Linked DNA regions of Homo sapiens. The protein of the gene in region 3 purifies or fractionates together with the protein of the main gene of each other region. This does not show direct contact. Each region holds a gene or a part of one and is shown on either strand. Other genes may lie near its edges.

The links.
Region 1: the proteins of DAPK1 (region 3) and MYO1D purify together in Homo sapiens (affinity purification with mass spectrometry; 2 studies listed by BioGRID and IntAct, with this or other methods). This does not show direct contact.
Region 2: the proteins of DAPK1 (region 3) and SVIL purify together in Homo sapiens (affinity purification with mass spectrometry; 2 studies listed by BioGRID and IntAct, with this or other methods). This does not show direct contact.
Region 4: the proteins of DAPK1 (region 3) and CAPZB purify together in Homo sapiens (affinity purification with mass spectrometry; 2 studies listed by BioGRID and IntAct, with this or other methods). This does not show direct contact.

The regions. Positions count from the first base shown.
Region 1 is NC_000017.11:32,874,112-32,881,903, reverse strand, and holds the start of MYO1D (unconventional myosin-Id), read left to right. Parts: upstream 1-4,779; 5' UTR 4,780-5,031; coding exon 5,032-5,126; intron 5,127-7,792. UniProt on the Homo sapiens protein: Unconventional myosin that functions as actin-based motor protein with ATPase activity. Plays a role in endosomal protein trafficking, and especially in the transfer of cargo proteins from early to recycling endosomes.
Region 2 is NC_000010.11:29,526,963-29,533,991, reverse strand, and holds part of SVIL (supervillin), read left to right. Parts: intron 1-533; coding exon 534-1,463; intron 1,464-1,819; coding exon 1,820-1,990; intron 1,991-2,703; coding exon 2,704-2,738; intron 2,739-3,323; coding exon 3,324-3,385; intron 3,386-4,147; coding exon 4,148-4,287; intron 4,288-6,935; coding exon 6,936-7,029.
Region 3 is NC_000009.12:87,703,848-87,709,144, forward strand, and holds the end of DAPK1 (death-associated protein kinase 1), read left to right. Parts: intron 1-2,284; coding exon 2,285-3,517; 3' UTR 3,518-4,787; downstream 4,788-5,297. UniProt on the Homo sapiens protein: Calcium/calmodulin-dependent serine/threonine kinase involved in multiple cellular signaling pathways that trigger cell survival, apoptosis, and autophagy.
Region 4 is NC_000001.11:19,475,540-19,482,568, reverse strand, and holds part of CAPZB (F-actin-capping protein subunit beta), read left to right. Parts: intron 1-7,029. UniProt on the Homo sapiens protein: F-actin-capping proteins bind in a Ca(2+)-independent manner to the fast growing ends of actin filaments (barbed end) thereby blocking the exchange of subunits at these ends.

The DNA.
Region 1 (7,792 bases), on a different chromosome or scaffold from region 3:
GAGAGGGGACTCTACAGGTGGGTAAAAGTCATTAATGACATCAGAGAGGCAACTGTCAGGTCTCTTTATACTTAAAGAATTTTTTGGCTTCAGAAGCCATGAAAAGTACATATGCTATTTCTGATGTATCATTCTTAGTTCAAATCCAGGCTCATGCAGTAAAGAGGAGGAGGTATGTTTTGGATATTTTCTAAGGCAGAGTTCCAAATCATTTCTATATGGCTGTAAGTACGTAATGAAGTTATTTTGCAACATATGTTTGCCTTTCTACTTCTGCTCTGTGATAATTTGGGATTATAAAATAAATTTATAAAATGCCCTTTGAATATGCTGTGTGACTATTGTTGTTGTTGTTTTTTTCCTAGCTGTCTTATTTCTGTCTTGCCAGACTCATGCTGAAAGAGTTGTCTTCCTTGGATGCAAAGCCTCTGGTAAAGGGAGGGAGGGCAGGGCAGCCCAGAAACATTCTGGGAAAGTTGAATGGGAATAAACATTTGTGGTGGAAAATTCAGGGTTGATTTTCGTGGATCATCAAGAGTAGACCCTCTGCAGTGGCTGGTAACTACAGAAGGGTTTTTGGAACAGTAGCTTTTGTTCAGTGTGAACACACAGTGTGCAGGCCTGGTCCCAGGGGAGAAATAAACACAGCCCTGAGATCTGCTTCCGGGGCAGGAGATGAGACTGAGGTTAATGTTGTACAATGACTAATTTGCAATGCAGAAAACTACCAAGGGGGGTGGATTTACAGTCTCACATTTTATGACCCATAGGTTCACAGACCATTCCATATTCATTTATCAAGCAACAGTTTATTAAGCACTTCATCTCTTAGCACTATGCTAGGAGGTGCCAGAATTACATTTACATCAAAAACCAGAAAAGACAGCTTCCAGCCCTCATGGCCCTTACAAACGAGTGAGAGAGACAGACAGTAGGCTCAAGGGCATTTAGTACTGTAATGGGGGCAGCACTTCCAGGATGCTGCAGGAGGCACAGAGGAGGAACAGCCAATTCTGACTCAGGAGATTATGGAAGCCTTCTTGGAGGAAGTGATGTTGAGACTGAGAGCGGAGGGATGAGCGGAAGTTAGCTAGGTCATAGGAGTGAGGGGTGGGGTGGCGGGGAGAACTTCAGGCAGAGAACAGGATGCACCTTCTCAGGGGCATATGGGTATATTTGACATCTAATTATTTTTGTTTTTAGAATTACCTGTTCAGTGTTTATAATCTCCTAGCACATCTATGCCAAATAGAGCTAAGAGGTACCCTGGACCAGGGTTTTCAAAAATATCTGCTGGTTCTTCAGTTCTGGAAGGTTTGCAAAATTCTGATGTGACTTTGATTTCTAAGTGTTATTTAATATTTTTAAATTAAAAATTTTTATTTAGCACAGTTTTAGATTACTATTTAATTTTTAAGTTTAAATTTCAGGCCGAGTGTGGTGGCTCACACCTCTAATCCCAGCACTTTGGGAGGCTGAGGTGGGCAGATCATGAGGTCAGGAGCTTGAGACCAGCCTGACCAACATGGTGAAACCCCGTTTCTACTAAAAATACAAAAATTAGCTGGGCATGGTGGCATGCACCTGTAGTCCCAGCTACTCAGGAGGCTGAGGCAGGAGACTCGCTTGAACCCGGGAGGCGGAGGTTGCAGTGAGCCGAGATCGTGTCACTGCACTTCAGCCTGGGCGGCAGAGCAAGACTCCGTCTCAAAATAAATGAATAAATTTCAAACTAATTGCAAAGTTACAGAAAAGTTGTGAGGATAGTACAAAAGAAAATCCCCTCAAAAGTCCCATATATTTTTAATGACTTTACCACTTGTTAGTATTTTGCATCATTTGCTTTAATCATTTATATGTCTACCAATATATATGCACGCCCTCCTTCCACCTCCTCATCTTATTATTTTTATTATTCTTGCCAAACAGTTCGAGACATCATTTTACTCCTAAATACTTTAGCAGATACCTGCTAGAAACAAGGACATTATCTTGCAGAATCCCAGTAAAATGATCAAGTTCAGAAAAACTAGCATTGATACTATCCTACTATCTAACATCGCGTCTATATTTGAATTTCACCAATTATCCCAACAATGTCCTTTACATTTTTCTGGTTGGAGATCCAGTCCAGAATCACCCATTGCCTTTAATAGTGATGTGCCTCAGCCTCTTTGTCTTTCACATCATTGATATTTTTGAAGAATACAGGTCAATTGTTTTGTAGGATGCCCCTTAATGTGAGTTTGTTTGATGCTTCTTCATGATTAGATTCCATTTACGTATTTTTAGCAGGTAAATGATATGTGTCTTTTTCAGGAGACCATATCAGGAGGCTCATGGTGTCTGTGTGTCTCATGATTGGGGATATAAACTTTTATTTGTTTTATTTTTTGTATATTTTAAACTGTAACAAAAACATGCATCTCCAAATGTGTTTCTATTCAAATTTTATCACAAAGAACATTCATAATGAGCTAATCTGCTCTAGGTTACCTTGACTGAATGCAGACCAGAGTATTCAGTCTCTCCTGCCGGCTGTGCATATACCTGAACTTTGCTCAAGTGTGTCATTGATTAATAATGTTGTAACTGCACATTGGCCTAGAAATGCTGAATGTAAAGTTGTATGGGTAACAAATTACTGCTTAGTTATACAAACAAGAATTTGCTTGACACAGTACAATGAAAACAACATACAAAAGTAAACTGGAATCCTGAGGCTAATAGTGAGCCCCATTGAGCAGATTTGGGTTCATCATGAGAGCATCAATGCCTAATTTTATACTAATTTGGACTTATACAAGAAATTAATAAAATACCCTTTGCATATGTTGTATATGTGTTTTATATGTTGGGTTCCTATATAAGATGTTGATTAAAATGAGGATCTCTTACTTTGGCCATTTGGAAACCACATTGTATCCCACCATAGCTCCTAACCACTGTACAATTTCTGCAACTCTCTCATCATCTGCAAGCCGTGATGTTTCTTTTCCTGGTACCTGGGATTTTGCCCTAATTTTTAACACCTACAGAGCTCAGGGAACACACATATATAATTTACCAAAAGGTTTTGGGGTGTGGTCCCTGGATGCTCCAAAGTGCATACAGTTTGAGATTTCTTTCTTTCCTTCTTGAAGTTCAGTTCTGCTTATGTTAAAACATGCCAATACAAACATTAGGAATACAACCATACCCTATGCAATAACCTACTTAGCCACTGACCGACACCTCCACAAATGACCCAACCATAGGACAGTCCTACCTTATTCCAGAGCTTTTATTCCACAAATGAGGACACTGATATCGAGACAGGTGGATCTCCTCCTTCTGAAGGACAGCTGCTAACGGTAGTCAGATGCAACCCAGCTCTGCTGGTGCCAGGGATTGGGGTGGTTTTCTGATGGCAGAGGCAGTCCCTCAGGAGGTGACAAAGCTCCTTTCCTTTCTCTTAGCAAGTGTGGGTGGCTGGCAGCTGAAGCAGGCCTTGGGCAAGGTCCTTCAGTCTGGTTTACTCATCTCAAACTCAGCCAGAGTTGAAGCCCAGCCAGGTCCTTGGAGGCCTCTAGATTTCCTCGTAGATTTTGTAATAGAAGATGTCCTAACAGAAACACAGGACTGAATAAATGTAGATACCTTAGAAAGTCATTTATTTAAAAAAAATAGCTGGGCATGGTGTCATACACCTGTAGTCCCAGCTGCTCAGGAGGCTGAGGCTGGAGGATTGCTTGAGCCCAGGAGTTTGAGGTTGCAGTGAGCTGTGATTGCACCACTGCACTCCAGCCTGGGTGACAGAGGGAGAATTTGTCTCCAGAAAAAGAAAAAAAAAAAAAAAAGAAAGAAAGTCATTTGTAGTATATTTTCTTTGGGAAAATACATTGAGTTCAAAAAGAATTTTCCAAGCTCAACCAATGTATCAATAAATTGGAGACTACTTACAACTCACTTCATTCCACTGAACCAGTATGGATTTCATATTTATATATGCAAAGTAGTACAATAGTTATTTGGTGGATGCAAAAAGAATGGTCCCATGCTCAAGACATCCGCAATAATCCTGGAGAGATGATACAAAGATATATTAAAAACTTAATAATCATATAAGGTAATGTCTGATGACATGCTCGGATGAGTGGAAGAGAAAATGGGCCACTGAAGAATGGAGGTAGTCAGACGTGGTTGAACGCTGCGGCTCCTAAGTCAAATGACCTGCGTGAAACCGCAGCTGCTCCACTTCCTAGTCGTATGGCAAGTTTCTTAAAAGTTCTCTAAGGCGCTGAGAACAGCTCTGGGCATTTTTGGTGCCCCAAAAATGTTAGCCATTATTATTACCTCTCAGTCTGTGCTTGAACCACCACTTCAAGAATGGGCAGGGTGTGAGTAGAGAGGCGGGAGTGGGTTTTGGAGCAGGGTGACAGAATCATAATGAATTGTCCTCGCGAAAAGCTCCACGAACTACTTTTCTAACTTTGTTGGCAGCTACCAAGTGTGGGCGGCAGGCGGCCATCCTCTTGGCCGCCTGAGATCCCAGCGCCTGTCCCCAGGGGGCGCTGCCACCCAGCTGCCGCCGCCCGGCCCAGCGCGCGTCCCCGCCGCCCACCCGCGCGTGCGCGCCGCCCAGGTGAAGAGGCGGCGGCCAGGGCCGCGGCTGGGGCGGGCTCCTCAGTGGGCCGGGAGGGGCGGAGCCGGGAGGCCCGGGCGGGGCGGAGCCGGGACGAGCCCCAGGCTGGAGGCGGGACCAGCCGCTGCCGTCTCCGTCTCGGTGTCCCGGCCCCTACAGCGCCCGGCAGCCGCGGCGGGAGGAGCGGAAACTGTCGGGTGCGTCCCGTTCGGAGCCGCGCCGGCCGAGAAGGCGCCGAGGAGCAGCGAGGCGGCCTCTGTCCGGCCCGGACCCGCCGAGCGGCGTGCGCGCCCCCTCCCCGTAGCCTCGCGGCGCGGCCTCGCCCCGGCCCCTCCCGAGCTCATCGCGGGCCCACGGAGCGGCCCCGGAGGCCCGAGCGCGCCCACCTGAGCCCCCGCGCTGGCGCCATGGCGGAGCAGGAGAGCCTGGAATTCGGCAAGGCAGACTTCGTGCTGATGGACACCGTCTCCATGCCCGAGTTCATGGCCAACCTCAGGCTCAGGTGAGGGCGGAGCGGCCGCGCGCAGGGGCGCGAGGCTGCGCTTTCCCGAGAGGGGGCGCCTCGGGGCGCGGCCGGATCCGGGGTGTCGGGAGCGCCCAAGCTCCAGGGATGGAGGCGCGGCCGGGCTGCGGTGTCCGGGGGTCTGCCAAGCTCCGCGGCTGCGCTTTCCCGAGAGCGGACGCCCCTGGGGTGCGGCCGCTTTGGGGTGCGGGGGGCGTGTCGAGCTCAAGGGCCGCGCTTCCCTGAGAGGGGAGCCCTGGGCGCTGTCCGGGGTTTAGGTGCAGAGGGTGTGCCGCGCGGGAGGGCGCGCTTCCCCGCGCCAGGTGAGGGATGTGGGCGGGCCGGTGACCTCATGGAAACTGAAGGGAAATAACTTGAACGAGAGTTGCGGTGGCCCCGAAGGCCCTAGGAGGACTGGAGGATTATTTTGGAGAGAGGCTGGCGTCTCATCCCGGCTTTACACTTGCTTCTTTTCTTTCTTTCTTCGCCCTTCTTTTTTTTTTCCTCCTGGCGTAGTTCCATCCTGTCATTCAGGATGCTATGGAGTGATCCCTGAGCTGTCTGTTCCGGGACACTGGCTATTTTTTTAGTTACTCTCTAAACGTAATTAGACACGTTTCCAGACATCGAAGAGACTGCTGTACTTGCCAGTGCCAAGATAAACTGTCTGAATTTGACAAGACGTTCATGGTTTTGGTTTTTTTCAAGGAGTTAGTGGATGGAGCTCTTGTGTTATTAACATCCTTGAGAACGTAGTCACAACTCAACGCCCCAAAATGGGCTTCCAAGATGTGGATTTGTTTTAGAAAGCCCTTTACATGCGATTATTTCACCCTTGATAGAGTAATATGTAAACAGTTTTAAAGTAGTTTGACTTAAACATTAAAGTAAGTGGAATTTCAAAATAGCTGAGTTTTGGTGTGCGTGTGTATGTTTCCCTGCAAGCTTTGGCTGCATTTCTTCTAAGGTTTATAGCTAAACATCATTCCTTAAGCTTATAAAGTGAAAGTCATAATCTAGGCTTGGGTGCTTAACCCTAATTTCATTATTAACTACCCCTGTCAATCCAGTTGACAGGGGTCAATCAGGTTGATTACATACCAGCATAATGATAGGATGTTACATTTCTGATCAAGGTTTGGATGTACAACTTTTATAGAAATCACCCCAAATATTAATCAAAATGATATACCTCTACATCAGCTATAACCAATACCCATTATCATAGTGATTAAGAGTCAGACTGTTGAGATTCAAATTCTAGTTCCACTGCATTCTTGCTGTGATCTTTGAGCAAGTTACTTAACCTCTCTGTGCCTCAGTCTTCCCGTCTGTAGGATTGGGGTTGTCCTGAGGGTTAAATGAATTATTAATAATATGTGTATACATACTTCAAAGATTAGTGCCTGGCAAATCCATATTAGTAAAACTGTTTTAAGTTTTCCCAAGTGCACATAAAATAGATAAAGGGGTAAGTTACATAGCAATTTCATAGATTAAGGTTGTTTTAAATTAAGAGATTCTACTCCTCTCCCCCACAGGAAATAAGTTGTGTGCTTTGAGAAATGCCTTTATAATTTTGTCACTCTCAGTTATAATCATTTCAGTTTTTCAGACATTGGTACATTTATTATGTACATACTGTATACAAGACCATGTAGTAACAGTTGAATATGAAGCCTTTCATTTTAACCTCCATCTTTCACCTCCAGCAAATACATGGGCTTAGCCAGAGCTTTTGCAGAATTTTCAGAATTTGAAATTGAAGGCATAGAGTCTAACAGGGCTACATTAGTTTGTAGGACTACTCCTCTGTAATAGAATTAAAACTCTTGTGGTTTTTAAAAAGTAAATTGAGGGAAGGCACTTAGAATTTCTGCTTTTTTTTTTAAAGCATTAAGTCTCTTAAGTGTGAAGTTTGAATCTCAAAATAGATTACTAAGGTGAGCCTAACAACTCCTATGTGTACAGAAGAGAATGCTGCAATTTATTTATATTTATATTTATATTTTTTAGAGATGGGCCCTTAGAGTTGCTATGTTGAGCAGACTGTTCTTGAATTCCTGGCCTCAAGCAATCCTCCCATCTTGGCCTCCCAAAGCACTAGGATTATAGGTGTGAGCCACCATGCCCGGCCGAATGCTGCAATTTAATTCTACTGTGTGCAAGGTACTCTAGGAGATAAGCTAGGAGTATCCAAAGAACTACAAGATGTGCTGCTTACCTCTCGAAGAGGTGACATCTCAATGAAGACCTGGAGAAAGGTGGAATTTTCTATTGATTTAAAGAATAGTTCAAGAAAACAACATCAGGAGGCTGAGACAGAAGGATTGCTTGAGCCCAGGAGTTCAAAGCTGCCGTGAGCTATGATCACACCACTGTACTCCAGCCTGTGTAATAGAGCACGACCCTGTCTCTTAGAAGAAAAAGAAGAAAGAAAACAGAGAGAGACAGAGACACAAAGAGAGAGAGAGAGACAGAGACAGATAAAGAGGAAGGAAGGGAAGGAAGGAGAGAAAAGAAAAAAAGAAAGGAAAAGAAAGAGAAGATAAAAGCCTTATAAAGCTTAGGTGATTATTTGTCAAGTAATTATAGAAATTGTTCTGGAAGTTCAGAAGAGAGAGAGATACCTTAGGTTGACTCCAAAACACCTTATAGAGGAAGAG
Region 2 (7,029 bases), on a different chromosome or scaffold from region 3:
AGAGGTGATTGTTGTATCTTGAACTAAATAAAAAGCATAAATAATCGTGAGTGCTCTTACATTTTCAGACGACAATGAAATTACAGCGTTTGGTCAATAGGTGTCTGTATGCCAGGAACCTTCCCCCACAGTCCGTGTTCTGGGCGTGTACATGAGGAAAGCTTACTGATTCAAGGGACCAGGCTCATTATGCCCTAATGCATGCTGGTGGTGGATATTAACGCATTTTTCTGTGGCTTCTGGGTATTTATTTAGTCAGAAGGGACCCATTCTCCCCCAGGATAGCATCTGACCCCTGCCAGCTTTTACAGGGGTAGAGTTAGTTTTGCACCTCCTGGGCATACATATGCAAATTGGAAACTCAACTCAGGATCATCTGACAAGTAGTTGACATTAGACACCAAAATGCTTTTTCACAAGTTATTCTCTCTCAGGTCAGTTTCCATTCACTGGTAATCTGTGATCTACGCATGCTTTCCTCCTGTGAGGCCGTTACTGCACTTTGCAACTTAAATCCTTTTTCTTTCTTAAAGAGTTAAAGTTAGAGAAAAATTGGTGAAAGAGGAAAGTGCTCGAAACAGCCCTGAACTCGCCTCAGAGTCCGTAACTCAGAGGAGACACCAGCCAGCGCCAGTCCATTACGTGTCATTTCAGTCTGAGCACTCAGCCTTTGATAGGGTCCCCAGCAAGGCAGCAGGCTCTACACGACAGCCAATCCGTGGCTATGTCCAACCCGCAGATACCGGTCACACCGCCAAGCTAGTGACGCCAGAAACCCCAGAAAATGCATCTGAGTGTAGCTGGGTAGCATCAGCCACCCAGAATGTCCCCAAACCTCCCAGCTTGACGGTTCTAGAAGGTGACGGAAGGGATAGCCCAGTTCTCCATGTCTGCGAGTCAAAAGCAGAAGAAGAAGAAGGGGAAGGAGAAGGAGAAGAAAAAGAAGAAGATGTGTGCTTCACTGAAGCTCTCGAGCAAAGCAAGAAAACCCTACTGGCTTTGGAGGGTGATGGGCTAGTGAGAAGCCCAGAAGATCCCTCTAGAAATGAGGACTTTGGTAAGCCTGCTGTGAGCACAGTCACCTTAGAGCATCAGAAGGAACTGGAAAACGTGGCACAACCCCCTCAAGCTCCGCACCAGCCCACTGAGAGGACAGGCAGGAGCGAGATGGTTCTCTACATTCAAAGTGAGCCTGTGTCCCAAGACGCCAAACCAACTGGTCACAACAGGGAAGCCTCGAAAAAGCGCAAGGTCCGTACCCGCTCTCTGTCAGATTTCACAGGCCCCCCTCAGCTCCAGGCCTTGAAGTATAAGGACCCAGCTTCCAGGAGAGAGCTGGAGCTGCCCAGCTCCAAGACCGAAGGGCCTTATGGGGAGATCAGCATGCTGGACACAAAAGTCTCTGTCGCCCAGCTCCGAAGTGCGTTCCTGGCATCTGCCAACGCCTGCAGGAGACCTGAACTGTAGGTGATGCTTCACACGCCCTCCAGCTGTGTCACTTGCACGTCCCTGGCAGAATGATTCACTCCTCGACCTGTGTTGTGTTCTGCATTGAATCATATTAGCTTAGCTCACAAGTGCGTGCAGGGCGACTATGCGGAAAATGGCTCAAAAACTACCACTCTGCTTCTGCCTACTAATGGGGAACTAGTGGATTGGGTGTCTGGAATGTCTCCTTCCTTACGTGCATGGTAGAGGCATGAAGAGGGGTTTGGTGGTGTCTGTCCCTTGACTCACGGAGATGCATAATCCTTTGCCATCTTCTCTTTCTCTGTCTTCGTTTGCCTTCCTTATACTCTCTGCCCTTTGATTCTCAAAGCAAATCACGGGTGGAGAGGTCGGCTGAAGGACCTGGCTTGCCCACCGGTGTGGAACGGGAGAGAGGGTCCCGGAAACCAAGACGCTATTTTTCTCCTGGTGAAAGTAGAAAAACTTCCGAGAGATTTAGAACCCAACCTATAACTTCAGCAGAACGAAAGGAATCGGATAGGTAGGCATGCGTATGCGCAGTTTCCTCATCCAGGAACGTGGCAATGACACAGGAGTTTTACCACACTGACGGTCTTGACGCTATTTATATAGGATGTTGGCGATTCCATAATTGTTCCATCTAACCTATAAGCGTTATTTATTTGGCTTATTTAAAAGTCTTTTTAAAGAATATTAGCCTTTACAGCGGTATTATGATACATACACAATTTTACATTGCATTCAGATGATAAGAAGTAAGAAACATTATTTTTCTTTATTTAATGGTTTTAATGTTTTTTACCCCTTGTTAAATTAGACTCCAGATTGCATATTCACCAGATTTTACAGTGAAAATAACTGAGGAATTTTATATTCATTTTATAAATGTCCATCTACTTGTTGTATTTGAGTTTTATACTGAAGTGTCATATACTATTGCATAGAAATGGTAAGATTTGTCTGGAAAATTGTCATCAGTGGTGTTTAACAAGTTGTTCTTGTGCCTGGTCTCTCTCCACGGGGTGTGTACTTGGCTGGGATTGTGTGCACACACGCTCCACAGTGTTGCTTCACAACTGTATGTGTGTTTTCACAACTAGAATTGCTACCAGGAGGTTATTTCTTAAAAGAATTTAATTGCATTTTTATTTTTACTTTCAGTATGATGTTTTATTTCGATCTTCTGCTCCCACCTGCTAATGTATTATTGTTATTTGCTAATGTCTTTCCTAGGTGCACTTCACATTCAGAAACGCCAACTGTCGATGGCAAGTACCTGTTTCCCTTTTTTTTCTTCTTTATTATCTCATCTAGACTGGATTTAATAATAAGGTTTTTGGCTTTTTGAGAGAGTAAGATGATGGAGCATAACAGTGTCTCCCTTTGCTGCAGGTTTTCGTTCTGTGGATATGATAAAATCTAGTTGAAATTTTCAGACAAGCTTTCCCTTCTTTTTGAGAGCAGTTAGAGAATCATACAGTGACCAATGTAAAAACAACTAATTCAAACCAAAGGAGCAGGTTCTTCTTGTTGTTGCTGCTGCTACTATTTAAAACTAAAAGAAATTCCCCCCATAAAATATATTCATGAAATCTCGATCAGACAAACGTTAGAGTAGAAATCCCTGGACAGAGTTTGCTTTGGTTTGGCTGGGTTGAATTGCAAGGGAAATTAGTACCTTTTCACTGAGCAGAAAGAATGGGCTCCCTGCAAGGGGAAACTACCACCAATTATTATTTTAGTGCACCTATTGTTGTATTCAAAGATTTCCAGGTCAGCCCTGAAAGACTTTTTGGAGACCGAACTTAACCTTCTCTAATGATGTCCAGTTTTTAATTTGTGGCTTTTTGCAGATGAAGAAAAGGTGGATGAACGAGCCAAGCTGAGCGTCGCCGCCAAGAGGTTGCTTTTCAGGGTAAGCTGTGCTGACGTGCTTGAATAGAGATCCCTACTGGGTGCAGTAATCCCAGCTATTTGAGAGGCCAAGGCAGGAGAATCACTTGAGGCCAGGAGTTTGAGACCAGCCTGGGCAACACAGTGAGACCCCCATCTCAAAAAAAATAAAAATTGTAAGCCTTAGGGAGGGGGAATCTTGTGGACCCAGCCTACTTCATGCACCTCTGGGCATGCTAAGGCCCTCCTGCCTCTGGCCCACCTGTTGTTCTCTTCCTAATCTTTGGCTGGTTGTGGCCACCTCATGGACACAGCATGAGTGTACACTTCTGACAACAATACGAGGTGCTCATTAGTGACCCCTCCTGTAGGTCCTGTAGGAGAACAAAGTGAAGAATTTTTACTACCCCCATTTCCTTTCCTTGAATTTCTTTGTTATTTTTAATTTTTTTTTAGAGATAGGGTCTCACTCTCTCACTCAGGGTTGAGTGCAGCAATGTGATCATAGCTCACTGCAGCCTCAACTTCCCAGGCTCAAGTGATGTTCCCACCTCAGCCTCCCAAGTAGCTGGGACTACAGGCCTGTGCCAGCATGCCTGGCTAATTTATGCATTTTTTGTAGAGATGAGGGGGTCTCACTTTGTTGCCCAGGCTGGTCTTGAACTCTTGGCCTCCAGCAATCTTCCCTCCTTAGCCTCCCAAAGTGCTGGGATTACAGGCGTGAGCCACCGTGCCCAGCTCTTTCCTTGAATTTATAAGGGTTCCACAATACTTCTAATCTTAGGAGATGGAAAAATCTTTTGATGAACAAAATGTTCCAAAGCGACGCTCAAGAAACACAGCTGTGGAGCAGAGGCTACGCCGTCTGCAGGACAGGTCCCTCACCCAGCCCATCACCACTGAAGAGGTGGTCATCGCAGCCACGTAAGTGCCCACAGGACTTCTCAGCCTTGTCTATAGTGTCTTTTTTTAAAAAAATACATTTAAAGAGTGTTCAATGAAAATGAGGCATTGGGGAGGTGATTTAGCTAGAAGCCACAGAGAAGTTAGTACTAAGGGATTTTGTTTACTGTGGTCTCTCTAAACTTTGTAATGGGATGTGTATCTTCTAGAAAAACTTGAAAGGAGTTTTTGTTCTATTTTGTTTCTGTCTCTGCATATTGATATTTTAAAAATCTCTTTGACAACGGAAAATAGAAACATGAAACTTGGTGGATTGCTGTGATGAAACCCCAGCTTCCACGGTCACCCGCTCCTGGCCGGTGATGCTCAGCCCGTGTGCCATTCATTTCCCCTTTCCTCCTGTGCTATTTTCAAGCAAACACTAGAGGTCTTACCATTTCATCCATAAATATCCCAGTACGCCCCTCTAAAAGATAAGGTTTGTTTTGTTCTTAATTGCCAGAAATCTCTTTTCTTTTTTTCTTTTTTTTTTTTTTTTTTTTTTTTTTTTGAGAGAGAGTCTTGCTCTGTCACCCAGAACGGAGTGCAGTGGCATGATCTCGGCTCACTGCAACCTCCGCCTCCTGGGTTCAAGCGATTCTCCTGCCTCCACCTCCCGAGTAGTTGGGATTACAGGCATGTGCCACCACACTCAGCTAATTTTTGTATTTTTAGTAGAGACGGGGTTTCACCATGTTGGCCAGGCTGGTCTCAAACTCCTGACCTCAGGTGATCCATGCCTCAGCCTCCCAAAGTGCTGGGATTAATTGCCAGAAATTTCTAAAAATTAAATTGCAGTTTGATAACTTTCCAAACAATAGGAAGTTTGTTTTGAATAATATGTTTCAATATATTCAGAATTAATTTCCCAGAGTAGTTCATTCAGAGATCATTGCTTCAATCAAGTGAAAAATTTTCTTATTTTTGCGGGGGGCATTGTTTGTTTTTTTGAGGCAGTGTCTCACTCTGTTACTCAGGCTGGAATGCAGTGCGCCATCTTGGCTCATTACAGCCTCAACCTCCTGGGCTCAATTGACCCTCCAACCTCAGCCTCCCAAGTAGTTGGGACTGTAGGCCCAACCACCACACCTGGCTAATTTTTGTATTTTTTGTGGTGATGGGGTTTTGCCATGTTGCCCAGTCTGATCTTAAACTCCTGGGCTCAAGCGATCCTCCCACCTCAGCCTCCCAAAGTGCTGGAGCTACAGGCGTGAGCCACTGTACCCAGCCTAGTTTTGTTGTTGTTGATGTTGTTAATTGGTTTTGTGCTTACCTTGGACACACAGACACCCTTCCTGGAAAAAAAAATAGTTCATCCCATTAGGTTATTGACATCCCAAAAGGCCTCTATGTCAGTGCCCCGTTCTGTAGACCTGCTGTTAGATCAGCTGCCTACAGTTCCTCCCCGAGTTGTTCCTCAGTTTCTTGGTGCATTTGTAGCTAAGTATATCCTTGCACTCATTAGGAACTCTTTGCAAATCAGTTTGTTTTTTAAAAAAAGAAATATTTGAATGGCTGGTGTAAAATAACAGGCAGATACCCATGGGAGCAAAACAGTAAATATAAGAAAAATTAATCCCATTTTAAGGCTCAATAAATCTACCTTGATGTGCCTATAGATTGTATAAGAACACTGATACTTTTAAAAAGTAGATTGAGGCCGGGTGCAGTGGCTCACACCTGTAATCCCAGCACTTAGGGAGGCAGAGGTGGGTGGATCACCTGAAGTCAGGAGTTCAAGACCAGCCTGGCCAACATGGTGAAACCCCGTCCCTACTAAAAAATACAAAAATATTGGCCAGGCATGGTGGCGCACGCCTGTAATCCCAGCTACTCGGGAGGCTGAGGCAGGAGAAATGCTTAAACCCAGGAGGTGGAGGCTGCAGTGAGCCGAGATCGCGCCACTGCATTCCAGCCTGGGCGACAGAGTGAGACTCTGTCAAAAAAAAAAAAAAAAAAAAAGGCTGGGCCCAGTGGCTTACACCTGTAATCCCAGCACTTTGGGAGGCTGAGGCAGGTGGATCACGAGGTCAAGAGATCAAGACCATCCTGGCCAACATGGTGAAACCTCATCTCTAATAAAAATACAAAAATTAACTGGGCGTGGTGGTGCGCGCCTGTAATCCCAGCTACTCAGGAGGCTGAGGCAGGAGAATCACTTGACCCCGGGAGGCGGAGTTTGCAGTGAGCCAAGATCATGCCACTGCACTCCAGCCTGGTGACAGAGACAGACTCCATCTCCAAAAAAGAAAAAGAAAGAAAAAAATTAGATTGGAAACAATATTCTAAAACACAGACATAATCTACTGATTTTTTGATAGCTAATATTTGCTTTTTTGAATTATTATTTTTTTTACACCAAGACATGTATTCTCAAGACAGAGTAAATCCTCCCAGCTCTGAACACCTATTCTTACCCCATTTGCTTTGGGTAGCCACTATCTCTTATTTCCTGAGTTTGTATTTGCTTTTGAAGTTCTTTCGTGATTTTTTCTCCCCAAAAATAATTAGCAAAATATTCTGTTAAAATTTTTGATTTAACGTTTCTGAATTTAAAACTATGCTGTCCTTAATGCTTCTTTTCTTCTCTCTCCTTATGAATGTTTCCTCTTTGGCAATTGCTTTTAAAGTGAACCTATCCCCGCTTCGTGTTCTGGGGGCACCCACCCTGTAATGGCGAGACTTCCTAGCCCCACTGTAGCTAGGAGCGCTGTGCAGCCTGCC
Region 3 (5,297 bases):
ATATGCCTGTCCCAGGAACGGGGGCAGTGCCTTCGTGTTTCTCCACCATGTGAAATTGGGAGCCTACATGAACTAGTGTGGGCCAAGAAGAGCGGTTCTGAATATTGCAACTAAAAGCAGCTCTGAGATTATTAAAAGCCAGATGCTTACCTCCCCAATCTCAGGTGCCAGGTCTGGCCCTATAGCCAGTTTGTATGAGTCATACAAATTTCTTGAAACTAAACCTGAATCCACAAGCCAGTGACCTTGAAAACTGGAGTCGCCGGGCAGTAATTTCATCAGCCTTTAAACTCCCAGTTAAATGGCCAGAGAATCTGCCAACTCATCCAGGAATACTTTAAAGTGATTGAATCCAAGGAAGAACACAGGTGAAGGACCACATCTTAGATGACAAGATACTGCTGGATGTAAAAAATGTGTCAATTCTAATTCTAAACTCCTTTGGCACAGGAGTCCCTTGCTTTCTAGTAGTAGACCAGCAACTTTCTAGATCATATCATATAGTCTCCTTTATTTGTCATTACATCCCTGCTTGCCCTTGAGAGTTTAGTAAGTAAATGAAGATGTAAAGAAGGAGGGTAATTAGGCAGCAGGAACTACATTGTGTGGCCCGACTTTGATTGGCCCCGGGCCTCCTCCAGACCTGCCTTCCGTATCTAATTTGCAGATCTTCAGAACTCCCCAGTGGCCCTTCTGACTCTGTTTTCTGGCCCAGGGTCCCACACTACGTTTAGCTGACTGTCTTAGCTCCCTGTTCTCCTCCACTATGGGACAGTTTCGTCTTTCCTGAGCCTGAGGCGATGAGCAGTGTTTAGGACCAAACTGCAAATGGTATTCCAGCAAATGCTGTATCAGGAACTAGATCAATATTGGCTCTGCCCTCCAGGAATTTTCAACCTAGGTTCAATTCTGAATAGACTCTTAGACAGGGGGCATCTTTCAGGTTTAAGCCAGACTGTGGGCAGGAAATTACTGTGTGGTCACCGGTGGGGTCAGAGCCTCCAAGTGAGGGAGTCCAGGGCGATGGCCACTCTCCAAGAAAGGAAGCAGAACTCTTCCATAAAGGGAAAGTTCCTTCTGTTTTTTGTCACTTTTTTTTCCTTTCTTTTTATTTTTTTAAGAAATAAACACAACCAAAAAGCTAAAGTCCCCTTGGGCCATCATCTCTGGTCTCACTCCTCTCTCCCCTTCTCGGAGGCCAACTATTATCATGGCAGCATATCCTTTCAGGCCTTTTCTATGTGTGTGTGTTAAACATTCACATAATGGTATAATAATAGAATGTTCTGACTCTTTTTTGAAAATGTTCTCAAGCCTTTAGAGAAGTTGCAAGGATAGTACCATGAACTCTCATATAGGCTACATTTATTTATTTTTTTAATTAATTAATTAATTTTTTTTTTTTTTTTTTTGAGATAGAGTCTCACTCTGTTGCCAAGGCTGGAGTGCAGTGGCACAATCTCGGCTCACTGCAGCCTCCGCCTCCTGGGTTCAAGTGATTCTGCCTCAGCCTACAGACACAAGCCATCACACCCAACTAAATTTTGTATTTTTAGAAGAGACAGGGTTTTACCATGTTGGCCAGGCTGGTCTCAAACTCCTGACCTCAAGTGATCCACCCGCCTCGGCCTCCCAAAGTGCTGGGATTACAGGCATGAGTCACGGTGCCCAGCCTACTACATTTAAGCTGATCAGTTGTTGACATTTTGCTACATTTGCTCGATTCCTTTCCTTTCTATTTATTTACTTATTTATTTTGCAGACATGATGACATTTCTTCCCTAAATAATTTAGCCTATATCTCCTAAGGAGAAGGATATTTTCCCACATAACCCAATATAATTGATGATTCCAGAAACATAACATTAATATAGTACTATGATTGAATATATCATCCTCATACAAGGGTTTGCCACTGGTCCCAATAATTTCTTTTAAAGCTATTTTTATTTATGTACTTATTTTGGGATTCAGAATCCAGTCTAAAATCACTCATTGCATTTGGTTGCCATCTCCCATTTTTTTTTCTTCTTTCATTTCGCTGGCCTTTTTGAAGACTTCAGGGGAGTTGTTTTTCAGAATCTCTATTCTGACATTTTCAAGCTGCTTTTCTCCACTCGGTGTTTGGTTTTTGAGACGCATCCACGTGGAATGGCCTTGGGTCACTCCTTAGAGCATCTGCTCAGCCTCTGTTGCCGGCATCAGGCCCTTTAGTGCTCTAAGTGGCTGGTGCACCTGGCCAGGGCTCTGTCCCTAAGCGTGACTTTCTGTTGTCCCCCCGCAGATCAACATCATGCAAAGTGAAACAGTTCAGGACGTGCTGCTCCTGGACCCCCGCTGGCTCTGCACAAACGTCCTGGGGAAGTTGCTGTCCGTGGAGACCCCACGGGCGCTGCACCACTACCGGGGCCGCTACACCGTGGAGGACATCCAGCGCCTGGTGCCCGACAGCGACGTGGAGGAGCTGCTGCAGATCCTCGATGCCATGGACATCTGCGCCCGGGACCTGAGCAGCGGGACCATGGTGGACGTCCCAGCCCTGATCAAGACAGACAACCTGCACCGCTCCTGGGCTGATGAGGAGGACGAGGTGATGGTGTATGGTGGCGTGCGCATCGTGCCCGTGGAACACCTCACCCCCTTCCCATGTGGCATCTTTCACAAGGTCCAGGTGAACCTGTGCCGGTGGATCCACCAGCAAAGCACAGAGGGCGACGCGGACATCCGCCTGTGGGTGAATGGCTGCAAGCTGGCCAACCGTGGGGCCGAGCTGCTGGTGCTGCTGGTCAACCACGGCCAGGGCATTGAGGTCCAGGTCCGCGGCCTGGAGACGGAGAAGATCAAGTGCTGCCTGCTGCTGGACTCGGTGTGCAGCACCATTGAGAACGTCATGGCCACCACGCTGCCAGGGCTCCTGACCGTGAAGCATTACCTGAGCCCCCAGCAGCTGCGGGAGCACCATGAGCCCGTCATGATCTACCAGCCACGGGACTTCTTCCGGGCACAGACTCTGAAGGAAACCTCACTGACCAACACCATGGGGGGGTACAAGGAAAGCTTCAGCAGCATCATGTGCTTCGGGTGTCACGACGTCTACTCACAGGCCAGCCTCGGCATGGACATCCATGCATCAGACCTGAACCTCCTCACTCGGAGGAAACTGAGTCGCCTGCTGGACCCGCCCGACCCCCTGGGGAAGGACTGGTGCCTTCTCGCCATGAACTTAGGCCTCCCTGACCTCGTGGCAAAGTACAACACCAGTAACGGGGCTCCCAAGGATTTCCTCCCCAGCCCCCTCCACGCCCTGCTGCGGGAATGGACCACCTACCCTGAGAGCACAGTGGGCACCCTCATGTCCAAACTGAGGGAGCTGGGTCGCCGGGATGCCGCAGACTTTTTGCTGAAGGCATCCTCTGTGTTCAAAATCAACCTGGATGGCAATGGCCAGGAGGCCTATGCCTCGAGCTGCAACAGCGGCACCTCTTACAATTCCATTAGCTCTGTTGTATCCCGGTGAGGGCAGCCTCTGGCTTGGGCAGGGTCTGTTTGGACTGCAGAAGCAAGGGGGTGATGTAGCCCATCCTTCCCTTTGGAGATGCTGAGGGTGTTTCTTCCTGCACCCACAGCCAGGGGGATGCCACTCCTCCCTCCGGCTTGACCTGTTTCTCTGCCGCTACCTCCCTCCCCGTCTCATTCCGTTGTCTGTGGATGGTCATTGCAGTTTAAGAGCAGAACAGATCTTTTACTTTGGCCGCTTGAAAAGCTAGTGTACCTCCTCTCAGTGTTTTGGACTCCATCTCTCATCCTCCAGTACCTTGCTTCTTACTGATAATTTTGCTGGAATTCCTAACTTTTCAATGACATTTTTTTTAACTACTATATTGATTGTCCTTTAAAAAAGAAAAGTGCATATTTATCCAAAATGTGTATTTCTTATACGCTTTTCTTTGTTATACCATTTCCTCAGCTTATCTCTTTTATATTTGTAGGAGAAACTCCCATGTATGGAATCCCACTGTATGATTTATAAACAGACAATATGTGAGTGCCTTTTGCAGAAGAGGGTGTGTTTGAAATCATCGGAGTCAGCCAGGAGCTGTCACCAAGGAAACGCTACCTCTCTGTCCCTTGCTGTATGCTGATCATCGCCAGAGGTGCTTCACCCTGAGTTTTGTTTTGTATTGTTTTCTGACAGTTTTTCTGTTTTGTTTGGCAAGGAAAGGGGAGAAGGGAATCCTCCTCCAGGGTGATTTTATGATCAGTGTTGTTGCTCTAGGAAGACATTTTTCCGTTTGCTTTTGTTCCAATGTCAATGTGAACGTCCACATGAAACCTACACACTGTCATGCTTCATCATTCCCTCTCATCTCAGGTAGAAGGTTGACACAGTTGTAGGGTTACAGAGACCTATGTAAGAATTCAGAAGACCCCTGACTCATCATTTGTGGCAGTCCCTTATAATTGGTGCATAGCAGATGGTTTCCACATTTAGATCCTGGTTTCATAACTTCCTGTACTTGAAGTCTAAAAGCAGAAAATAAAGGAAGCAAGTTTTCTTCCATGATTTTAAATTGTGATCGAGTTTTAAATTGATAGGAGGGAACATGTCCTAATTCTTCTGTCCTGAGAAGCATGTAATGTTAATGTTATATCATATGTATATATATATATGCACTATGTATATACATATATATTAATACTGGTATTTTTACTTAATCTATAAAATGTCGTTAAAAAGTTGTTTGTTTTTTTCTTTTTTTATAAATAAACTGTTGCTCGTTGCATTAGTTTTTTTGATCTTTAATTCAAAAGGATTTCTTTTTACTTGTTGTGGTTTTACTGTTGTCACCCCACATAGCAGGACAACCCAGTCCAAAACCTAGAAAATCATTACACCTCAACTCTCAGGGTTATTGAGATGCCGATTATTACTCAAATTAGGAATGGTGTGGGAAAGTGAAAAGAGTTCAGATAATTTTCACATTTCTTCCCATTGTAAATAAAACAGGCCCCTTAGATTTTTCTCGGGTGAACCAAAAAACCAAACTGACTCTTTTAGTTTTGGCAACAGGGAACAGAGGAAGCTTTGCGACTTCTACACAAAAATGATGGGGATGGCACCAGGAGGAAGAGAAAACCTACAGCAAAAAGACCTTCGTGCCTTTCTTACATTTATAGTTCATTTATGTTTCAAGCAAGTTGTCCACAATAAACATGATTAACTTTCATAATGAGAAAAGAAGTCCTGATGAATAAAATTAAAACTAGACATAGGTGTGTCTACAAAGGATGAGACT
Region 4 (7,029 bases), on a different chromosome or scaffold from region 3:
GTGCTGTACAATTTCAGAGCACCGTTCCTTACACAGCTTCAGTTTCTGACTTGGGAATTATTCTTAGTTATGATGATGGTGAGGCTTTAGCAGGAACGGGGACTAGGGAGGCCCCCTCAGGAATTGCTGCTCCAGCTCACAGATGGTTTTGCCTGGCAGGAGCTGATGGGAACTTGGTATTGTTACAAGGTGAAACAACATAGTTGACATTAATGTCTCTTGATGTGGATAAGACACATTGTTCAACTCACATCCCTCTTGTCTGTCTATACAGCCCTGTTCATTTAAGCCCACCTGGCCTCTTTTTGGTGGCATGCTTATAAAAAGTAGGCAGTGATCAGTGGCTTGAGATTAAGGAAATGATAAGCCGTGTCTTTGAAAGCAGATGCTCCTATTTATAACTCAGACATCCTATACTTTTACATTCCATGAGGTGGGGAACAGGACATGACTGACCACAGGGAAATGGTGGCAGGGCAGGTGCCTCGCCCGTTAGAAGCCTGCCCTCCCTCCAGGCTGGGAAATGCTTATTGTTAGGCAAATACTGAGGCATGTTGTGGGGTACCTGCAGCTACAGGATAATGTTAATTCAGCTTTTTGTGTATTAAGTGCCTACTCTGTGGTGCTTATGTGCTGAGGATGCAAGACAAGGATCTCTGCCCTCATGGCTCACATTGTTGAGGGGTGGGGATGTCATCGTTACCTAAAGCTTAAGGGGGAAAGAGCCTTGTTCAGTGTACCTGCAGGCACATCTGCATGAGCTATGGCAGGAAACTGAAGAGAAAGCTGGGGGCTTGTGCCAGGCTCCACTCCCAGGCCTTTTGGGGTGTGTCTTCTCTTGTGTCTGCCATTGGGTGGAATTGGATTGCACGTGCACGCAGTCCGCTCCTCTGCACAGCCAAGGCTTTCTGGGGCCCCGAAATGAAACCTTACAGTACCTTGGAAGTCCAGCCTGGGTAGCTTTGTCCAGCCTGTCCAACCCGGGTACCCGAGGATCTGCTGTGACCCAGAAACATGACTTAGGTTATAGCCCAGCCCCCATTTTACTCACAAGGAACCTGAAGCTTGAGAGCTTGAGTGACCGGTGTGAACAGCAGGCCTGGGATTCGGATCCCTGTCAGCCCAAGTCATGTGCTGGACCCCACTCACTGTGTTTTCCAGAACACAGTGAGCAGAGGGCCCCGTAAATACAGGATCTTGTCCCATTTCCCCTTGCAGCAGATCCACCAGTGAGGGTGCGGTGTGGAATTCCAGGGGATGCAACTGCAAGATCACCCATATTGGGACCAGCTAGAGCCATATGCTATTTCCAGACCTAGGCTTTCACAGATTCATGTTTCAGTGGAAGGAAAGGGAGGTTTAATGGTTATGGAGCACCAGCCACATGCTATGCACTCTGTTAGAACGGTCCTCACCACAGCCTGACAAGGTAGGTTCAACTTTAGGCTGGAGGCAGCATAGTACAAGAAAATAGAGTTAGGAGCCAGACTGCTTTAGGATAACAGTACCTCTGCATAAGGTCGTAATGAGGGTTAAGTAATATCTGTCAAGTGCATCCAGTAGCATCTGGCACATAGTGATGTAAACATTAACTATTGTTATTATCACCATTTTCCAAAAGTGTGCAAAGGGGTGTATGGTTAGTCCCTGTCTAGCTACTAAGTGGAGGAATTGGGTTTTCTGACTCCAGAGCAAACCGTTTTTCTCCACTCCGTACTGCCTGCCGATGGCTGCTTTGGAGTTTGTCTGGCTCTGGGTTGTGCCTTGAACGCACAACTTACCTAATAGAGCCTGGGGCTCTTTTCTCCATTAAAGACAAGCTCACTGTGAGCTGGGCACCATGTGTTGCCAGAGCCTCATGCTATATGTCAGGCCCGAATTCCTTGTTTGTGCCAGTGGAACCCCCTGTGACTGGAGGGTTCCTGCCCTCTTCCAGGCTTGGAAGAAGAGAGACAGGGCTGGGGACAGAGCATATGAGCTCTGTGAGAGCAGGGACCTTGTCTGTTTGGTTCCCTCTGAGTACCCCACACCTTGCACTGGCCGCCTGGCACTTAGCGCCAGCTACATAAACACTGAGTGAGAGCTGAGAGGCGGCTGCCTGCTCCACAGAACATGGTCTCTGCAGTTGGGCACATCTGGATTTGAGTCCTGTCTGCCACTCAGCATGTGACTGTCAGTGAGGCGGCTAATTCCCTTGGTCTCAGTTTTCCTGTTCCGTCGCATGAGGATAACATTTTATAGAGATGGGGAGTAGGGGTGAAATTTGTAATGTACTTACTCCAGTGCTTGGCACACAGTAGCTGTGGTTGTTGCATGTCTTATTCTGCATACCACAGAATAAGGGACACAAATAGAAGCCATCATCCCTGTCCTCTAATCTGGGAGGGGGAGGCAAGATGCGTCCAAAAAGCCAAGTGCAGCAGGAATGAAGTAGTACTAGAAAAGACTTAGCCAGGGACCCATGGGTGCTGTGGTCTGCCCATCCCTGCAGGCCTGGCTTGCATTTCCCCCTCCTCCACGCAGCCCTGCAGACCACTCCAGCCTGCAGTCGGCTTGGGGGCTGGGCATGAAGCCTGGGAAGAGTGTGCTCAGGCAGAGAGGACAGGGTGGGGTATGGTCAAGGGGACTGGCACAAAAGCAGAGGTCAGGGGGTGTGGTCACACAAGCAGTAGATGCGAGCCCATGGGGTGCCTCAGTCTCAGGAGTGAGTTGTGGAGTGCCTGAGTTGCTAAGCTAAGGAGTTTGCATTAGATCTGGGACAGTGTGGAGCCAGTGAAATTTTTGACAGGGCAGGTAGAAATTCGAGGAGGCTGGCAGAGCGGTGGTATTTTAGGAAGAGCCCTCTGGCTGTGCATGCAGGAGGCCTGGGAGGTGAAAGAGATGGGAGAGAGGCCTCCACAAGCATCAGCTTGTGAGCTTATGAGGGTCCTGGCCACTGTGCAGCTGTGGGTGTGGAAAGGAAGGGATGGTGGAAGGAGATAAAGGCAGAGTGACACGGAATGATTTACCACCTCTGGAGCTGAGGGGGTCTGCCCCAGAGCTGTCCCATGTAGGTGTTCTGATTGGACAGTTTATCATTGACACACAGCTATTTCAGGTCAGTCTAAATCCTAGATAGTGGTGTCTGCAAAGCCTTGAGAGCCTGTTAACAACTGAATGGGGATTTCAGTCTGGGTAGCCCAGTGATCCATCCAGCCAGTGACTCTGTGACTGCAGGTGGCACCAAGTTCAGCCTGATGCACACAGCATTAGGTTCTGGTGCCTAAGACACCAGTCTGCTGAGGGAGATGGTGGGGTGGCGGGCTCTGCATGGCAGCTGTAGGAATAACAGAAGCTAGTTTTTTTTTGTTTGTTTGTTTGAGACAGAGTCTCGCTCTGCCACCTAGGCTGGAGTACAGTGGCACGATCTCGACTCCCTGCAACCTCCGTCTCCTAGACTCAGGGAATTCTCTTGCCTCAGCCTCCCAAGTAGCTGGGACTACAGGTGCGTACCACCATGCCTAGCTAATTTTTTGTATTTTTAGTAGAGACAGGGTTTCACCATGTTGGCCAGGCTGGTCTTGAACGCCTGGCCTCATGATCTGCCTGCCTCAGCCTCCCAAAGTGCTGGGGATTACAGGCATGAGCCACTGTACTTGGCCAGGAGCTAGTTTTGACTGATGACTTTTTAATATTCCAGCCAGCCCTACGAGGCAGATTCTCATGTCACCCTCATTATGCAGGTGAGGAAACCGAGGCCCACCTGGCAGTCCTGGCACTGCGCTATGCTCCCTTTAGTGATTTTTTTCCATCGGGTCATTCATTCCGTGGATGTCTACTGAGCAGTCAGGTAGACCTAATAGAATATGCCATCTGAGTCTTAAGGTTAAATGGAGGAAGCGGGTGGAAGCAAGTATGTCCAAAGTTCTGAAAGACTCAGGAGTGAGTGCAGAACCAGCCTGGGGAAGTCCACAGCGTCAGACAGGCAGGGAGGCTGCTTGCCTGCGTTTTTCCGTGCTTCCTCCTATGGTCACCCCACATGTTTCTGACATCTCTGGATGCTTGTGAACAGGAGCCTTTGCCTACAACTTTCTAGTGTTAGGTTTTCAGTTGTGTCGTCACGTGTCTTGTAAGGCAACAACCCTGGTGGTTGCCATTCACCTGGCACGTAGTGATGATTGTGAGGACTGAGTTTATGTGTGGAAAGTGTAGACGATGCCTGGCACGTTGTAAGTGCAGTAGGAGTGTTATCTCTTATTATTGTGGTTATTCTGTTAACATGGATGGATGATAGGTGGTGTTTCATTTAACTTCCCAACCAGCCTGGAAGGCAGGTGCTAGTTCCTTCTTCTGAGACTCCAAGATGTAGAGTCCCTTGCCCAAGGAGAGTGGTCTTAAGGGGCTCATTCTGTTTAAACACCAGACTGCTGAAAACAGCAGCCCAGGGTTTCTGGTCTCAAGAGCTCTTACCACATTGCAGCTTGGAAGCAGTTGTTACCACTGGCTCAGACCCCGCACTTCTCCACCCTCTGCTTCAATTGCTCTGTGCAGCTTCCTCTTCTAGTGCTGAACTCAGCATGATGCTCCTGAGTTAGGCTCGGTATCTTATTTAACAGTGTTTGGGCTTGCTGTCTCAGAGCCCTAGTAAGTGGATTCAGGCATCGTATTTACCAAGTGAAGTACTTTAACTTAAAATAGAAAGTTAAACCAGGTGCTGTGGTGTGTGTCAGTGGTCCCAGCTACTCAGGAGGCTGAGGTGGGAGGATCGCTTGGGCCCAGGAGTTCAAGGCCAACCTGGGCAACATAGTAAGACCCCATCTTTCTTTCAAAAAAAGTTATGAAAAGATGCTTTTGCATTGCACCCTATCTGCTGGAGCTTCCAATTAGAATTGAGCCAGTGGCATTTTCCGGTGGTACCGGTGCCCTTTTCCCTTCTCAGTTGCAGCAGTGATTGGCAGGTAGAGTGTTGCTGCTGAAGGCTTCTCCGTCGTGAGGCTTTGACCCTGATGGGCTGTCGTTGGTTTCACATGAGTGGGCTCCCTGCGTTGCAGTTTTGTGCTCAGAAACTGGAAGGAGGAGCCTTAATCCACCACATCCTTCTGGTGTGAAAAGTCTTGAGACACTGAGGAACTCAGACTCCAAAAGAGCAGCGGCCAGGCTTGGCTGTTAGTTCCTCTGCTGAGAATTTCCAATGTGAGCTGTTGTCATGTCCTCAGTGTATACCCTCCAGACACCTTCTATCCTGAAATCTCTTTTGGGCACAGGGTGGTGTGGACCCCTGGTTGTCCTGAGATTTGAGACCTTGTTCAGGCAGAGAGGATGGGCTGGGGTGTGGTTAAGCAGAGTCCATTCTTGGTCTTGAGGAGTGCACTCATGGCACAGGCATCAGGGGATGCCATGAAATGAAGGATACCTTCAGTCTGTAGGCTGGTATTGAGTGTTCACTCACAGAGTGGCCCCTTCCTTCTGCCAGTATTTACCGGATGCCCACAGTCATTGTCTGTAATTCTCTCAACACCAACCCTGTGAGGTCTGTTTCCTCATTTTGCAGATAAGGAAACCGGAGCTCAGAGAGGTGTAGTAACTTGCTGAAGGGCCCCCAGCTAGTTAATGGCAGTTGCCATGGAGGTCCAGGTCCACCGCACTCAGCGCATGCTGATGGAATTCCCCTCTCCTGCCTCTCTGGCACCAGCCCATGGGGATGTTTATTTTATAGATGAGGAAACTGGGGCCGAGAGGTTCCCCTGTACGTCTAGCCACAGTGGCTGAAGAGGTCTGGGTTTTGTTTAGGAGGTTTTTTTGGTTCCACTTGTTGAAATGCAAGGAGATGGAACTTTGTGAACTGCAATCTGTTTTCCAAAAGATAGCCACTCAGCTGAAAGGGCGAGATAGTCTTAGCCTAGCGTCGGCCACTGTGTGGCTTGGCCTACTGGACAGGACGGTTCTTTGTGCAGTAGTGTCAGTGTCCCTGGCTCTTCCTGCCTGTGACGTGAGTGGCAGCAGCACATCTTAATCATTGCGACAGCCCTCCATGGGGACTATTGGGTGACAAAGCCTTGCAGGATCCTTTGGCTTTTTCCTATGAAGCCCCATCCCAGCCCTGGTCACCATATACAGTGTAAGATGCAGGGATTCTGAGAGGAAAGACAAAATTGGCCTGTTTGATTGATTGATTGAGACAGGGTCTCATTCTGTTGCCCAGGCTGGAGTGCATGGTTCCATCTTGGCTCACTGTAGCCTCAGCCTCCTCGGCTCAAGCAGTCCTCCCCCTTCAGCCTCTCATGCAGCTGGGATAACAGGCATGTGCCACAGTGCCTGCCAGCTGGGATAACAGGCATGTGCCACAGTGCCTGCCTGCCTGCCTATCTATCTATCTATCTATCTATCTATCTATCTATCTATCTATCTATCTATCTATCTACTTATTTTTTAGAGACAGAGTCTTACTTTGTTGCCCAGGCTGGTCTCGAACTTGTGGGCTCAAGGGATCCTCCCGCCTTGACCTTCTAAAATGCTGAGATTATGGGCGTGAAGCCACCATGCCTGGCCAAAATTGGCCTGTTTTAGTAGTTACCTGAGCTCAGGCAGATCGAGTTGGTTACCCTTGTTCTGCCTGGTAAGTTTGTTTCTTATCCTTAGGAGGGAAGATGAAAAATCCTGGCTCTCAGTCTTGGGGTGCTGAAGCAGTGTTACACACTGGCCCTGACACAGCCATTGCTCTACAGGTGTTAGATGAATGACTGAATGTCCAGTAGGTCCTTAATAAATGTAAGAATCCCTCCCTCCATTAGGTTGAACCATATGAAGTTGCCATTTTCCTAGGTAAAAAAGGGTTGAATTAACCAGCCTTTCATGTGGTTCAACCTAATACAGACTAAACACTGGGGCCAGGCAATTCCACTGTGAGACTAGCCATGTCCAGATCTCTGGGCCTGAGCTCTCGGCCAAGCCTGGCTTCTCCTAGGGCCTACCCAGTTGTCAGTGTCAGGCTCTCAGTCGAGAACAGAGGAGCCGAGCGGGGTCTGCCCCCGAGATGGGGCAGTGCTCTCT